2 separate regions of the Homo sapiens genome follow, and region 1 is linked to region 2. The links come from fine-mapping of genetic effects on gene expression. A gene starts in region 2. The other region holds a variant in brackets. All regions are shown on one strand. Distances are from middle to middle.

Region 1 (5,369 bases), 50 kb before region 2:
AATCTAGAGATGATGTAAAGTACATGGGAGAATGTGCGCAGGTTCTGTGTAAATACAACACCATTTTACATAAGGGACTTGAGCATCTCAGATTCTGGTATCCAAGGAGGATCCTGGAACCAATCCTCTATGGATGACTGTATTAAAACTAAAGGCTAGTGTGGATGAGACTAGTGTACTAGTCGTACACTAAAATCTATTCTCTTCTTAAGAACTTGGTTAGATCCTATTTCTGAGGTCCTGAAATGAGGTAAAGCCGCATTCGCCAACAGAACGGAAAGATGTATGCCACTTCTGGGTTCAGGCTTTCTGATCATGTGTATGCCCGGTTCACATTATCTTCCTTCCTTCCAGCCATTATTTAGGCATGGCAGCAACCAGGGTTCAACCATGTAGCCATCCCCAGGGGATGGTAGAAACAACAACCTGGAAGAAACCTGGGGCCCTGAATGACCAGGTGGAGCTGACTAGCACAATCTGGAACACACATTTCAGACCTTCACATGAGGAAGAGCTAAACTTCCTTGTTATTTAAGGTAATGCATTCATGAGTCCCTGTGCTACAAAATAAACTTACAAAATAGGTGTACCCTGACTAATGCAGACATAATTATATCCATGAAAATAAATTTTTCTTTAGGAAAAACTCATATTATTGTGGGCTCATTGAAAATCTGCTTTCATAATGAAAACTGAAATAATCAAAAGTGTTACTATCTTAAGCCTTCAAGTCATTCACTTTGGAGTCCTTATCTTCACTTTTATATGCATTATTCACATCTATTTATGCCACAAAGTTTGAGGCTGAACCCCAAGGCTAATCCACACACCCATGAGAACATTTATTGTTTATTTAAAATCTCAGCAATGACTGAGTTCTGCACAGAATGTTAAGGCAAGCAGAAGAGGCAGACGACCAGTGACACTGTTACCAGAAAACACAATCCAAAAGAGCATACATAGCTGGAAACTGGAATCACATTAGATTTTTAAAGTTCATGCCAATTAAAGAATTTATCATCTTACATATTAATAACATGAGATTATGAAAAGATAAGCCCAGTGTACTTTTCTTTGTTTTTAGCTTTCTGGACCTTTTGGTCTTACTTGATGTAATGCATTGCCCTGCTTTCCTTAGCTCTCATAACATTGCTCTCCTGACTTTTCCCCATTTGCAACATCCCTGGCCCCTTTTGAAATCCTTTTTCTCTCTGAGTACCACATGCTGGTGCTTCCCAGGACTCTGGTTTTGGCCCATCCCTCACTCCTCAGGTTCTGTCTGTAATATAAGCCCACAGCTTCAAATGCCATCAACATGCTGAAGATTCTCAACTAAACCTCTTTTTCCCAGCAAGCCAGTGCCCCTGAGCTGCAAAATTATACAGACTAGGCCAGGCAGGGTGGCTCACACCTGTAATCCCAGCACTTTGGGAGGCTGAGGTGGGCTGATCATGAGGTCAAGAGATCAAGACCATCCTGGCCAACATGGTGAAACCCCATCTCTACTAAAAAATAAAAAAAAAAAAAAATACAAAAATTAGCTGGGCATGGTGGCGCGTGCCTGTAGTCCCAGCTACTCGGGAGGCTGAGGCAGGAGAATCGCTTGAACCTGGGAGGCAGAGGTTGCAACGAGCCAAGTTCATGCCATTGCACTCCAGCCTAGTGACAGAGCGAGACTCTGTCTCAAAAAAAAAAAATTATACAGCCTATTACTGACTAGAAACTGTCTCTTGAATGTTTCATGATAGCTCAAATGTAGCACCAATGCCTGTACTAACTTCCCCCCATACCTCCCTTCTGTGTTCTCTAATTCCAGGGAGGGGTACCACCACCAGCCAGACACCCAGTCAGAAACCTGGGCCCCATCGGGCCTGCCTTTCATACCCCTGTCCAACCTGCCACCAAGTCCTATTGATCCCACCTTGTAACCTTCTCTAAGACCCACTCACTCTCTCCATCTCTGCTGCCACTTCTGAGTTTCAGCTGCCATCATTTATTCATTCAACAAACATTTAATCACACCCCACCACTCATATGTCAGTCACTGTCCTAAGCACTTGGAATGCAGCAGCAGTGAACAAAAACAAATAAAAATCTCTGCCCTTAGGGAGGTTATATTCTAGCCTGGGGAAGCAGACAATACACAATGAACACTCTGTGTGTGTGTGTGTGTGTGTGTGTGTGTGTTTGTCTGGGTTAGAAAGTAACAGATGCTGTGGCAAAGAGAAGAGCAGGCTAAGGGGGCTGTGGGAGACCAGGGTGGAAGGAGGAGCACCTTGTCATTTTAACTGGAGTGTTCTGAGTAGGTTTTATTGAGAAGGTGACATTTGAGCAAAGACTTAAAGGAGGTAAGAGGACTGGCCATAAAGCTTTCTGTGGGAAGAGCCTTCTAGAGACAGAAACCAGTTTGTGCAAAGGCCCTGAGGCAGCATACAGTGCCTGAATGTGGAAGGAAGAGCTAGGAGCATTGTG[G/A]CTGAAGCGCAGTGAGTGAGCACGAGGAGAGTGGAGGGCAAGGTCAGGCGGGTTAGGGGTGGAGGAAGGGCACTCAGGCCTTGTGGGGCACTTTAAGGATGTGGATTCTGATTCTGAGTGAAGTCTCTCCTCTGGATCACTACCCTAATAATAACACCACTAGCTGCCACCAGCTTCCAATCCATCTTCCACACTATGGCTGTCAGAGACCTTCATCTTTTCATCCCTTTCACTGCCCGGCTCTCTCACTGCCTTCATGCCTGGACATACTCCCTTGCTGGGTATCGAAGCCTCAGATAACCTAGTTCCTACCCAGTTTTCCACTCCACGCTTGAGCCTGTGAAACTAACTTTCTGCTCAAGCCTGTGAAACTAACTTTGAGGGCCCCAATGTGCCAAGCTGTCCACCACCTCACACTGCATGGGTTGGTCTCACCACCCAAGGGGCCATTCAGCACCAGCTTCTGCCTGACTTGCTCCTGCACACCTTTCTGGTCCCTTTCTCTGTGTGGCCTTCCCTGATCTGCCACCCCATGTCCCCTCCCTGCCCCAGGTGGGGTCAGGCTGCCCCTCTTCTGGCTCATGCCCCCAAATATGGCACCCAAACTACTTCCATTTCTACTTCTTGCTCTTCTTCCATTTCTTCCTCTTCTTTCTCTAATGCTGCCACCACTGCTGCCACCTGTGCCAGCTATTCACTGAGGGCTGCCGTGTCCTGGGCACCGGGCCTGTCTCTGTAAATGTGCTGAGCTCCCTGAGGGCAGAGGCAGCCCCAACAAGCGGCCTTTCTTCTTCGACTCCTCAGAAGCCTACTCCCTCCATCACTGCTCCAGCCCAGCCATACCCTGGTCTTATTGTGGCTCACACCTGCCCAGTTCTTTCAGCCTCGGGCCCCCTGCACTTGCTGCTTACTCCATAGGGAACGCTCTGTCCCCGGACCATCACAGGGCTGGCCCCTTCACTTCATGTAGGTGCCTGCTTGTGTACTGCCTTCTGGTACCTGGCACATGATAGAAGCATAAAACTAAAATTTGTGCAATAAATGCTGATCAAAGTGGATGTTTTCTCCTCCTTGGATGTAGAAAAGCATATTTAATTCATATTTATGAATGCAAAAAAGCATTTACTAAATATGGCATATAAATAACTAATAACCTTAATGCTGGCTAAATGTAATACTATGAGGGTTAAAATAGCACCTTCCTTATAAAGCACATGGCATTCACAAAGAGGCAGCTTCTACTACAAAGGCTTTGAGAGTCACAGGGTGTGGCATCGTGGATGGAAACCCTGGGGCAACAAACTTGTGGACCGCCAGCTAGTGCTTGGTTCAGCTCACTGCACCCTGCCTGCTGGCCACAGTATTCCGTTTCACTAGACTAGAATAATGGGCATGCTCCAGGGCACACCACCTTTTAGGAGATCACAACATTAGTAATTTTTAAAGCTGAAGTAGCACCTGGGAAGACAGCAGGTATTGCTCGTGACCCAGATCCCACAGTCCTGGGGGAGTCAGCAGCCTAGAGAGGGTCCCCTTCACCGGGGTTCCTGCTCACTCTTACTCTTAAGTACCTGTTTATAATGATGAGTCAACTATTACTGTTTTTAAAGATTAAATTAATTAAATGACATTAAGTAACTATGCATACTCCACCCTCTTCACACAAAGGATTTAAAGTGGCTTCTAAAAATACAGAATGTTCAATAAAATAAAACTAGGCAAAGGAAAATGAGGGCAGAGGCAGCCAGGCCAACTGGTCCCTAGGAACTGAACCTCTCAAATGGGAGCGCCAAAAATGGCCCCATTAGAGGGTCCTGGCATCACTGTGACAGGGGCCCTGCAAGACGAGCTACAAAGTGTCACTTTTAAAGAACAGCCCTGGCTGTAGTGAGGTAATCCATGGCTCCACCAGGCTCGCCCTCCCGGGGCAGGCTGGCATCCCAGAAGCATTCCATCAAAATAACGTCTTCCCCACTGAGCACTTCATCTCCTGACCTCATTCACTAAACTCTGCTAGAATGTTATGTGCCTCCAGACACATTTGCTGAGGTCTAGCCCAATATTTTATTGCTAACTATGCCTCTAATTTTAGAGCCATGCCATTTCCATACAATTTCCACACTCTGTTCAATTATTTTTCATCCTAAGGGCTTTCAACCAAGAACAGGCTGCCTCTACTCCAGTGAAAAATTAGAAGGGTGAAATAATTCTTACATTTATATGGCTCTGCAATTGCTAACGTGCATTTGTCTGTGTCATCTCACTTACTCTTTGCCCCAACTTTGCATGGGGAGCCTTGTGATCCCCGTTTCAGAGGTAGGAGGCTGAGGCTCAGAGGACACTAAGGGGCTTGCCCGCTGCTCTGAATGGAGCAGGTGAGCTGGGGCGGAGGACTCTTAACTCAGTGCTCACTGTACTGTGTCCCAACTGTTTATTAAAGTGAAAAACATCAGGGTGGGAGGGTGAGCCTCAGACTGGCCTGGGCTCAGTATATCTGCTGTGTTGCTTCAAACAGGTGTCCCCGCCTCTGTGGGCCTCCATCTTTTCAACTGTATAATGGCACTCACATGTAGGACTGCTCTGAGCTCAGGCTCCTGCAAACAGTATGGTTCACCAAGTGTAGGTCCTGTCATTCTCTATCCTACAGGATATAACAGACACTTGAAAATGACTTTTAGAAAAAGTGCAATTTACCTGTTAGCCACCAGAGTGCAGTCAATTTCTGGTCGCTTTGTTTTGGGAATGACATACAGTGGGTACCTGTCTCCGTGGCGAATGAACACATGCACTGAGACCAGCTTAAAATGATGCGGGGCATGACCTGCGCGAGAGAAGCACATTGTCTGGTTATCACTCAATAGGTGTCAATCCTTTTAGAAGGGGGCCAAGGGGATGAC
Region 2 (5,369 bases):
CCCCACTGAGGTTAACGACCCACCATCAGAGACTGATCCGTAGATTGCACTCACTGCTCCAAACACACACAAAAATGAGTTTGTCTCTGGTGATATGACACATTAAAAAAAAAAAACTGTTGAATTTAAGGGTAACATTTTGAACAGTGTAGCAAAGTGTAGAAAACATTGGTTGTGAACTCAGACTAATTCACCGGGGCATCCATTTTTTTTCCTCACAAACACTGAGTACCCCTATGTGGTAGACAGGGGGGACCAGGCAGGGACCTGGGGCCACAGAGGTGGTTCCTTCCACCCATCCCTGAAGATGCTCCTGCACAGTGGGGCATCTGACAGCGACTCATCACAGAGCGGTGTAGGGAGGGCCAAGGAGAAGCCCACGGGAATTTCTGGACAGAGAGACCCTACTGAGCCCCAGTATGTCCTTGGGCTACTTATCTAATCAATAGTGAAGTAATATTGAGCTAACTATTCAAGCTGATCAATAGAAAAAAGAGTTACAGATACTGCAGTTCCACAAACACTCGGAGTGCTGTGCTCCAAAGGCCAGGTGGCCCACGCTGTTCCTGGTGCCCAAACGCAGCCTCCCAAGGCATCAGTGAGGATGGGCTGGCCAGGAGCCAATCCCTAACAGAGAAGTTCCCCCTACACATCCTTTCTCTGAGATAAGCAATTAATTTAATCCAAGACTTAATGAAAGCCAGGAGAAGGGATGGGGCAGATTCATACACTGGCTTTCAGGCTGTCCCGTGCATCTTCACCTCTCTCCAGGGACCACGAGGGTTTTTTTTTTTTTTTTTTTTTTGACAGGGTTTTGCTCTTATTGCCCAAGCTGGAGTGCAATGGCGCAATCTCAGCTCACTGCAACCTCTGCCTCCCAGGTGCAAGCGATTCTCCTGTCTCAGCCTCCTGAGTAGCTGGGATTACAGGTATGCACCACCACGCCTGGCTAATTTTGTATTTTTAGTAGAGACGGGGTTTTTATGTTGGTCAGGCTAGTCTCGAACTCCCGACCTCTGGTGATCCGCCCGCCTCGGCCTCCCAAAGTGCTGGGATTACAGGCGTGAGCCACCGCGCCCGAGGCCTTTTGATCCATCTGCTATAAATCCCCTTCCCACAGATGTCCCGATTGGGCACCAACACCTCTGAGGAGGGTAAGTTACTGCCAAGCCCGACCGCAGTCGCATCCCGTTTGAAAGGGTGGGCTCCGCACTGCCAGCTTCACACCCACGGGCCTTCTGCAAATATCAACAAACGGCTCCATTTGTGGAGCACTCTCCGATCCCCCATCCACCCCCCTACACTTCCCCATTCACAGCTCGATCTGATTCCCCATCTCTCCTGATTTTACTTGTTGAATGCTTACAAAGGATCCTTGCCTTTCCACAAAGACACTGGCTAGCCAGGCGGTGATAACCTCACTCACTACAGAGCCCCCTCGCAATCGCTGAACTCACAGCCGAAGCGGGAAAATATGGCTCCACGTCCTGCACCGTGAATCCTTTACCATCCACAGGTACAATTTAAAAGGCAGCTGCGGCTGCAAAGCAGGCAACCTACCCTAAGCAAATCCATTCTCTCTCTCTCTGTGTGTGTGTGTGTGACAAACCCAGCTTATTTAAAAGATCAGGACATAGGCAAGTTCACCAGCAAAAGCAACGTCGTGGGTCTACACCACACGGTCCTAACCTGCGCATCCAGGAATGTTAACCTGCGCTCGGGCGGCCCCGTGGCCAGGCCCGGGACTCCCGGAGGCGTCAGGCTGCAGGTGGCTGCCAAGAGGAGCCAGCCCCGTCTCCGGGAAAGGCCGCGAAGTTGCGGCCGCCTCCTTACCTGGAGACTAGCCGGCTCAGGACCGCCCGGGAAGGGGGATCCCGGGAGCTTGAATCTCGGCTGGAATCCAGCGGCGGGAGTGCGGGGGCCGTGCGGGAGAGGGCTGGAAGGGCGGGGGCGAGGTGGAGGCGGGCTCCGCGGGAGAGTGCGGGGCTGCGGGGGGCGAGGGCTTGGAGACAGAGCCGGGGGTTCGCAGCGGGCGTGAGACGGCGCCAGCTCTGGGAGAAGGGGGCTATGGGGCGGGCGCCGGGGCTGGGACACCGGGCGCACGGGGGGAGTGGCAGGAAAGAGGGCGCAAGTCCTAGGCTCAGGGGCGAGCGCGGGGATAAAGGAGGAGGCTTAGTCGCGGGATTCGGACCCGACGCTTCGAAGCGCCCCCAGCCTTCCCGCCCCTCTCCCACTGGCGAGTTAGGGGGACCCCCTCAGTCTCCCAACCTCGGACCCTGGACGCCCACCCGCCTAGAACCTCTGCGCTGCTCGGCCCCAACGGCAACCGCCCCGGCCCAGGCCCGCGCCGCACTCACCGCCCATGGTCCCAGGCCGGCCCCAGCTCCGTCGCTGCGCGCCCGGCTCGGCGCTCGCCGCCAGCTCCTCCCGGCGCGAGGGGAGGCGAGGGCGGCGCGCACCCGCCACCGGGGAGCTCGCGGGGCCCGGCAGCGCCCCCTGCCGACCCCGCCGCGCCCCGTCTCAGTTCGGCCGGCCCTGCACCAGGAGCCCTGGAGCTCCGCCCCGGAGGCGGTGTTGCGGTGCGGCTGGGCGGGGGCGACCGCGCGGGGTTGCTGAGAGGACACTGCCTCTGGGAGGCCCAGCACAGCCCGGAGAGACTGGTCAGTCTGCAGAGCCCTCGGCGTGCAAAGCCACGGGCACGGACAAGCCGAGCGCGCAGGGACCACGACCACAGACGCGCAGGGCTCTCGCGTGCCTCACAACTCCTGACCTGCGATCAGGGACTGCGCGGAGGCGCGCCAAGGCCCAGGAACACAGCCCTGGCCGGCCCGGGCCCTAGTGTGGGTGCTTTGGGGCCATGTGCCTGCCCTGGCGCCGCTGATGCTATCGCCGGGTGGGCGCGCGCGTCTGGGGTGCGCCTGCTGCCACGTAGACCCAAACTGTCACCCCCCACCCCCCACCCCTTTCGGCCTATCCCACACTCCTCTTCCGGCTCAGAACACATCCGGCCTTGTGTTGCTCTAGTCCTCGCTGCTGCTCCGTCTCCAACGGTCTGCAGAGACCCGGGGAGGTCGTGGCCCCGCGCAGTCGCCCTTCCCACCTGCTCCCGGCCCGCGGCTTCCTTGGAGCCGCTGCTGAAGATCCTCAGAGCACTTGAGGGCTGCCTGTAACGCCCCGTTAGACATCTGATAGGCGAACGGTTGTATTTGGTTTGATCAGTATTTGTGGGTCATTTATTGCAAATGTTAGGTTCCAGCTGGTGGAGATTTCCACCAGATTTCTCTGTGGGAGATGAAACGACCAACAGCGATTATCAGAGAGGTCTTTGCTGTCAGCTCGAGGTCTACAGCAACCCTGTGTGTCCTAGCACAACTAGCCTCAGGCAAAATAGATACGGATTCGAATTTGCTACTATATACCTTTGAGGTGCACCTTTGGGAGGATCTCATCCCTTGACTTCTGCTTTCTCTCCTTGATTGATGGCTCTCAAATCCACACACTTGGCTCAGATATGTTAGCCATATTTCCCCCTACCCTCCGGTTTTTTTCTTAGAACTTTCCTCCTCAAGTTACCACGTCTGGCACTAAATTTTACCTCTTCCAAGCTCCCAACTCCATTTATCCCCGTGGTCTCGCCATTCTCTCAGCCACCTGTCATGCCTTCTTCATCAGGTGCCTTAATGGCTCGTCAGTACCGGACTTTGCTGCCTGTCCGCCTCTGGTATTCCCCCGATGCAGCGCTATCCCGGGCCTTTTTTCTGCCCTGAATACTGACAGCCTCTCCCAATCCATGAGCACAAAATCTTTTCACTGTCCCCTTTGGCATCACCCCCAACTCTCCCACCTGGCCCCCACAGAAGCCCACCGCAGCCCGCCCAACAATGTCTCCTCTGCCCCTTCTGATTGTCCTCTCACGGATTGCAGGCTCTACTGCTTAGCTCACACTGTCACCCTCTTCTCTACATGGGTTAGTCAAGGTGCTTTCTGCTGTAAAAGACAACCCAATTCACACTAACTTAAATCACAAAGGGTTGATCCGCTGTGTACATGAAGAGCCTGTCTGCTTCAGGCCTGGCTTTAGTCCCAGGGTCTCAGGGACTCCCCGTCTCAGTTTTGCTGTCTTCCACATGAACTACGCTTTCATGCGCACATGAGACCCTGGCAGATCCAGGCTCACAGCCTCACAGCTCTAGTTCTAGCAGAAAATCAGCTTCTCTGCCAGCCATTGCAACTAGCCTTGGACCTGGCTTTGTTTGCAGGATTGGGCCACATGTCCATGCTGTGCTCTCAGCCTCTGTGACTCCATGGCAGGTGGGTTCACTCGTGGACACACTATCACCCTCAGCAGGGAGCATGTAGGCACTCTTGGATCCCTTCTCTGTCACAAGGGGACTAAAGGTAACTCAGGGCACCATCTCTAGCCATTTCTCTGCAAAATTTGCCACACCAGCGCTTTGCTTGACAGCGCAGGGCATACTGTGGGGGCAGAGTCTCAGCCTGGAGATAGGACACAGGCCCTTTCTGCTTTCAGCTTCCTCCTTAACCTATCTGAGATCTGTGTCTTTGTACCACCCCCTTCCCTAGGTCCACACTTGGTATAGGGATAGCCTCAGGCCCTCATGGAATCAGGCATCATACACTCCCTAGACTCACATCCTGTTTCTTTACCTCACCTTCCCGATTCCCTGAGGATGTCTATGCTACCTTCCATTCTAGAGGAGGCATCTCCTCCCCCTGTGGACTCTGGGTTCTGAGTGGTACCCACCGAGCCTTAATGGAGAAAGGGGCTATAGGGAAGAAAAAAGAAAAGCTTCCTACAGGGAAAATAGATATGAGGAAGCATCTCAAGACCATTACTCCCACTAAATCTCTTTCCTCCGTGGTTGCTGAAGAGGCAGGATGGCAGCCTGACACAGCTGGGGACCATCTGGCCAGCACCTGGGGAGACTGTGCCAGAGACTGCAGCTGACAGAGGAAAGCAGAGTGGTGAGATAGGCAGGTTTCTTTCTTTCTTTCTTTTTTGTTTACCTTCACAACAGAATGGATGTCATAGGCAGGTTTCTGCTGTGCCTGAATCCCACATACCACTGGATTTTTCAAGTACGTGTTCCAGTAAATACCCCATTTTCCCCCAAGCAAATTAGAATTGGCTTTCTCTGTCACTTGCAACCAAGAGAGTCTTGACTAGTATAAGCCTCTAGCATAGGACCTCACACATTAGTTCCTGTAAAATAGCAACTATCATCACCGTTATTCATATGATAAATGAGCAAGCCATCCTCTTTGGTAACTGTAAACTGTAGAAATGAAAAGTGCATGCAGTATGCTCAATAACTTTTGTCTCCCCTCTTATTCCCAGCCTGCTCCTT

Evidence for each region.
Region 1: its variant is fine-mapped to the expression of PXYLP1 in whole blood (TOPMed, PIP 0.99).

What each region holds. Positions count from the first base shown.
Region 1 is chr3:141,279,302-141,284,670 of GRCh38, reverse strand. It overlaps PXYLP1 (2-phosphoxylose phosphatase 1), which reads right to left. Exons shown (of 6, transcript NM_001037172.3): 4 at 5,167-5,293. Among named protein-coding and RNA genes, the nearest start is that of PXYLP1, 50 kb to the right of the region's middle. The variant G/A (reference allele first, on the strand shown) is at 2,473.
Region 2 is chr3:141,228,900-141,234,268 of GRCh38, reverse strand. PXYLP1 (2-phosphoxylose phosphatase 1) reads right to left here and starts at 2,444. Exons shown (of 6, transcript NM_001037172.3): 1 at 2,358-2,444. RefSeq lists a silencer at 2,326-2,705.